Linked DNA regions of Homo sapiens: region 2 is linked to region 1. Evidence: fine-mapped expression QTL. A gene starts in region 1. The other region holds a variant in brackets. All regions are shown on one strand. Distances are between the middles of the regions.

Region 1 (2,911 bases):
GACCCAAAGACTCTTCTGCATCACTATGCTTTCTCTAATCAGAAGCTGGGCTGTGCACTGAAATAAAAACATTCTAACCAATACATTTTTCAAATTATTACTATAGTACTCGTTTAAACACCTGTATTCAAAGCTTCTCACTAATCATCTAGCTTTATCAAGTAACACACACAAGTTAATATACACTATGACTGCCTTGGTAGCCGCAGTTTGACTAAATTCTGGGACACCACCTCAACTTGGAAGGGACAGAACTATATCCGGTTCTCATTAGATACACATTTTCTCATGCTTTCCATCTTAAAGACTTTACACTTTCCCAGAGGAGCAATAAATGTAGGAAGACGCCAGGTAGTATGCCTGTAAGGAAGATAAGTGATCAGATTAAATTCCTACCCAAGAAACCTGAAACTTCAAAAACTTTTCCTAACAAACCACAGATGAAAAGGACAAAGTATGATTTACCCCTTCATTTCCACTTCTTTTCTGGAGCCAGCTTCCCAAATTCCTGAACAGCAGTCTTAACTTACTGGTTAGTTGGAGGAGCGGTCAACGGTATGGCCACCTCTTCCTCCTCGTATTCTGGTCCATCCAGAGAGTCACCTTCGTCCACTGTCCCGAGGCCCGCCCCCAAAGGGGGCAGGTAAGGGGGAGGGGGCAGAGGGGGAAAACCGCCGCCTGGCCCGAGAGTCTCAGCAAGCAACGAAGTGGGCAGTTTGGTGAGAGCCATGTCTCCACTAGGTCCAGCAACAGCAGCACCGGCCACGCCAGCAGCAGCACCAGCTACGCCAGCAGCAGTACCTCCCCCTGTCAGTCCAGCTCCCCCCAGTGCCCCTGCCACAGACCCGGCTCCTAGGAACTCTGACCCCAAAGCGGCTCCGCCACCCAGAGTTCCAGCCACTCCGGTCTCCACCAGCCCAGGATAGGGGGCGGCTGCCACAGGCAGGGCCGCGGGTATCTTCACCCGACACACTGCGGGATAGGCACTGGAGCCCGCTGCCGCGCCGCCTCCTCCAGCTCCGGCTGTTACCGGGCCGCCCTCCTCACTGCCGGCCTCGGCCGCCATCATGTTGAAGCCCGCTCTACTCTGCCCTACCCTGCCCGCCCGGGAGCCCCAGGGGCCACCAGGCCCGGGCTCCGAGCAGCCCCACCCAGACGCGTCTCCCCTTCAGCTCCCCAGGCTGAGGAAACAACAACAAAAGGAGAGAGCCCGCCGCCGCGCCCCCTCCTAGGGCCACAGCCCAGGCTCCCCAGCTGCCTGGGTTACGGGAAGCCAAGTGGGCAAAAAACCCAACGCCTGCACAAACGCCACCCAAACCTCACCGCACACACCCACACTCACGCACACAAACACATGTACAGAAGCGAAAACTTCCTCGCTGCACTAAAGAGGAAAGGAAGCACAGGGAAAGAGGCTGAGGCTGCTACCGCTCCTTCAGCCGCCACCACCGCTTCTTCACCACCCCAGTTCCGGCCACCCACACCGCAGCCACCGCCGGTGCCGCTGCTGAGGCTGGGGCCACTGCAGCCGCTTCATCCTCCACCAGGCAGATGAGAGGGGTGGGGGGGCAAGAGAAAGGGGGGCGGGGTAACGAGGAAATCGACTGAACTGCTCACTACCTGGAGCTCTCAGTGAGTGAAACGGGAGAGAGAGAAAGGAAGGCGGGGCAGGGGAGGAGGGACGGAGGGAAGGAAGGGCGGAGAAGGGAGAGGGCAGCTTGTGCGCAGGCGCGTTCCCGGAGCGGGGGCGGGGGGCCGGGCCGGGAGGAAAAGGAAGAGTCCAGAGGGAAGGAAGCGGCGGGGACGCGCGGTGCGTGGTCGCGCTTGCTGTCCTCCTCCGGTTCCAAGCGTGTGGCGGCGCGGCCGCATCTCCTGTTGGCGTGGCCGGCGGCGCGCGCCTGTCTCCCGGGGCTTTGTTTGATGGGCGGGAGAAGAGGGAAGGGTACCTGAGCACGCGGGTGCTTGGCGCTGTTAAAGCCGGAGAGACCAGAGGGGGACCAGGAGGCGGTGGAGAGGAAGGAGGGGGAAAGGGAAAGGAAAATGCCCAGAAACTAGTTCCGTACTTCCTGACCAGTGGAAAAAACAGCCTTAACCAGCAGCGCAGAAACCGGGCAGGGGTCAGGTAGCTTTGAAGATCGGGGCAGTACTATTAATGTTTTCTTTTTCGTTGCATGCTATAAATCACTATGACTATCTCACACACACACAGTTAAAATAGATTCTGAAACTCCAAAACGAAATAAAGGGCACCATATGAGAAGGGTGAAGAATTTGAGTAGAAATAGTGGTTATGAAGTAAGATTTCTACCAGTATTTGCATACGTTTTTCTTTATCAACTGTCTCATATACTTACCTATGCCATTATAAGTCTGTTGGATACTGATGAAGAGGAGGAGGTGCCACAGAAAACACTAATCAATGCACTTTTGTCCTGGTTTGTGTGCAAAAGACTGCAGGACGTGATCCACAATGCAAGCACCTTCAACAAGTCAAATGTCAAGAATGTCCCAGAATGCTAGTTATAATTATATATCGTTTCAAAAGTAGCAATAAACTGAAAACTCATTTTTAATACAATTAAGGAGAAGGGTGTTATTTTGTCTTTTACACTAAAATGTATACAAACTATGCATTCATGTAGAGGGAGCTTCCCATGGTTTGAAATTAACAATATTGTTAAATTCTCCCAGGAGTGATCCCACATTAAATACCATTGGATATTGATCTTTGAGATCAATATTTTCTGTGCTAAGGATGATCAAACTAACACTCAGGATGGCAAGTGGCTGTGATAGAAACCCAGGAAAAAGAGAAAAGACCACTAAAAGACGTGACAAGATACAGGCAATGCATTGCCTTTGTAAGTTTGCACAGGCCTATTTACCTAGTCAATGACAACAATCCAACTTG
Region 2 (2,911 bases), 370 kb before region 1:
CAGAATTGAAGGAGAAAAGTTTTCAAAGGAAAAGAGCCCATAATAATGGAGCAAATTATTATATACACTCATGCCAAAGTGTATGGCCATGAGATATTGTACTGCTGGTGGAAAAGAGAAGATCATAAAAGCTCTCAGAGTGTGGAAGTAGAAAGATTTCATATGAAGGATCTAGAAGGCCCATCTCTCAATAGTGACACTGGAAGACAAAAGAAAATGGAGGTTCTGTCTTTGGAATGGGAGAATATATTTGCAAATCACTTATCTTATAAGGGTTTAATGTCCAAAATATACGAAGAACACTTACAACTTAACAACCGAAGAAATAATAACACAATTTTAAAATGGGCAAAGGGCTTGAATAGACATTTCTCCAAAGATTATATACAAATCGTCAAGAAGCACATGAAAAGATGTTCAACCTTATTAGTCATAAGGAAAATGAAATCAAAACTATAATGAGATGTCACCTCTTACCTATTACGATGTCAACAATCAAAACAACAGGAAAAAACAAATCTTGCCGAAAATGTGGAGAGATTAGACTACCTTGAGCACTGGTTTTGGGACCGTAAAATGGTACAGCACTATGAAAAGCGGTATGGAAATTCTTCAAAAAACTAAAAATAGAATTACCATATGATCTAGCAATTCCACTTCTTGGCATATATATCCAAAGAATTGAAAGCAAGATCTCCAAGAGATTTTTGCACACCCAAGATTATAGCACATTATTCCACAGATGAATGGATAAACAAAATGTATATATATATATATATATATGAATATTATTCAGCCTTCAGAAAAGAATAAAATCTTGTCACATGCTGTATTAGTCTGTTTTCATGCTGCTGAAAAAGACATACCCGCACTGGGCAATTTACAAAAGAAAGAGGTTTAATGGACTTACAGTTCCACATGGCTGAGGAGGCCTCACAACCATGGCAGAAGGCAAGGAGGAGCGAGTCACGTGTTATGTGGATGGCAGCAGATAAAGAGAGAGCTTGTGCAGGGAGACTCCCATTTTTAAAACCATCAGATCTCTTGAGACTTATTCACAATCACGAGAACTGCACGGGAAAGACCCACTCCCATGATTCAATTATCTCCCACAGGGTCCATCCCACAATATTTGGGAATTATGGGAGCCAGAAGATGAGATTTGGGTGCAGACACAGAGCCAAACCATATCATATGTTACAACATGGATGAACCTTGCATAAATTACATTAAATGAAATAAACACATAACAAAAAGATAAATACTGTGTGACTCCACTTACATGAGACATCTCATGTAGTCAAGCTCATGGAAACAAAAGAGTAAAATGAGGATTGCC[A/C]GGGGGTGTGGGAAGGGAGATTTAGGGAGTTTTTGTCGAATGGGTGTAGAGCTTCAGTTTTCCAAGTTGAAAAAGTTCTGGAGATCTGTGGTAGGACAATGTGAATATTCTTAACACTATTGAAGTGTACACTTAAAAATGGTTAAGATGGTAAATTTTATGTTTTTTATCACAATTTTAAAAATTATAATTTTTTTAAATGAAAGTTCTTTTCTTGTCAAGATAGAATAAATATACTTCAACTTGTCTCTCAAAATGAATGCAACTAAAATCCCAGAAGAGAATATATGGGACAGTTGAGAACTAAGAAGTAAATGATAGTACCACTAAACAAGCAGTAAGTTAACAGATTTTTTTCATTTTTTATTACCTGGCCTGAATGCAAATGCAGTCCGGAACCCAATACTGCATACAAGGTACAGACAGAAAGTGTTTCAAAAGAAGCTCTCTATTTTTGTTATGAGGGATCTCTTTTCGTCAAAGATAATGAGGAACTTTCTGTGTTGTTCAATTTTTTTTTTTCTCTCTCTTGTCTTACCACCCTACTCCGCAGGAGATCACACAGTGGCAGTAGCAGAAACAGAAAAGATAACTTGAAAGATATTTACAATTTCATCAAAGAGAAAACCTCTCTGATCAGAGGACCTGTAGTCACAAGAGCACAGGAGAATCCACTTGCTTTTCCTTTTTATCTCTTTCTATTCTTTTTACCATTTTGCCCTGTAGGTATACAGGGTAATGGAAAGTACATGGCAGAGCCAGAGAAGCAAGAACACCAGCTTTTAGCCAGAGAACCAGAAGGAGAGGGCTTCTGGGAACTATAAGGTGTTAGAGAGAGATGGAGGGAACTTTAAAAAGCAATTCTATAAAGTTGCATATGAATGCCATGACTCACTCCTGGGCCCCATGTGCATGAATATGACCCTGAAGAGCACAGTAAAAGCTTTCAGAACTTAACTGTAGTCTTGACTACAGCCCAGGTCCCAGACTGTCCACTAAGTGGTGTGCATGTGGGAATACCACTGCAAAGGCTTTAAAAATTGAACACAACATACAAAGATAGATATGGACTTGTCTGCACCCAACTGGATCAATTGCCTGCTAAAACAAACAATCAAATATCAACATTCTATATAGGATTTAAACAAGACTAAGAGTTTTAAAATATGATACTTTAAAAGCACGGGAAACAATTCAAAATCACTTGGTGTAGGAAGCACCAGACACATTTCAACATCTCATAAGAAAAATGGCACAAGAGTAACTACACCAAAATGATACAGATATTGGAACTATCAAACACTTTAAAATAGTGAGTATAACCATGTTCTAGGAAGTAAGAGCAAACATCCTTGAAATATATGGGAAAATAAGAAGTCTTAACATGAAAATAGTCAATATAAATTACGAAAATTTTAGAATGAAAAATAAAACAATGAAAATAAAAAATTTTCAGTTGAGGTCAATAGCATAATGGAAATAAAAGGGGAAAGATTAATAAACTTGAAGATAGATTGATAGAAATTATCCAATCTGAATGACAGAGAAAAAGATTGAAAAAATAGAGACCTG

Alleles and levels. Alleles are on the strand shown, and positions count from the first base shown. SD is a standard deviation of normalised expression in the study named.
For the expression in putamen of the gene that starts at base 1,638 in region 1, C is the low allele of the variant in region 2 and A is the other (moderate effect, 0.64 SD a copy in GTEx).

The links. PIP is the estimated chance that this variant, and not a neighbour inherited with it, causes the effect.
Region 2: its variant is the best candidate, but not a certain one, in a credible set for the expression of RASA1 in putamen (GTEx, PIP 0.78).

The regions. Positions count from the first base shown.
Region 1 is chr5:87,266,610-87,269,520 of GRCh38, reverse strand. It overlaps RASA1 (RAS p21 protein activator 1), which reads right to left and starts at 1,638. Exons shown (of 25, transcript NM_002890.3): 1 at 531-1,638. The coding sequence starts at 1,069. RefSeq lists enhancers at 867-916, 674-1,561, 1,615-1,909 and silencers at 1,097-1,276, 1,617-1,866.
Region 2 is chr5:87,640,460-87,643,370 of GRCh38, reverse strand. No RefSeq gene overlaps it. Among named protein-coding and RNA genes, the nearest start is that of LINC02488, 20 kb to the left of the region's middle. The variant A/C (reference allele first, on the strand shown) is at 1,340.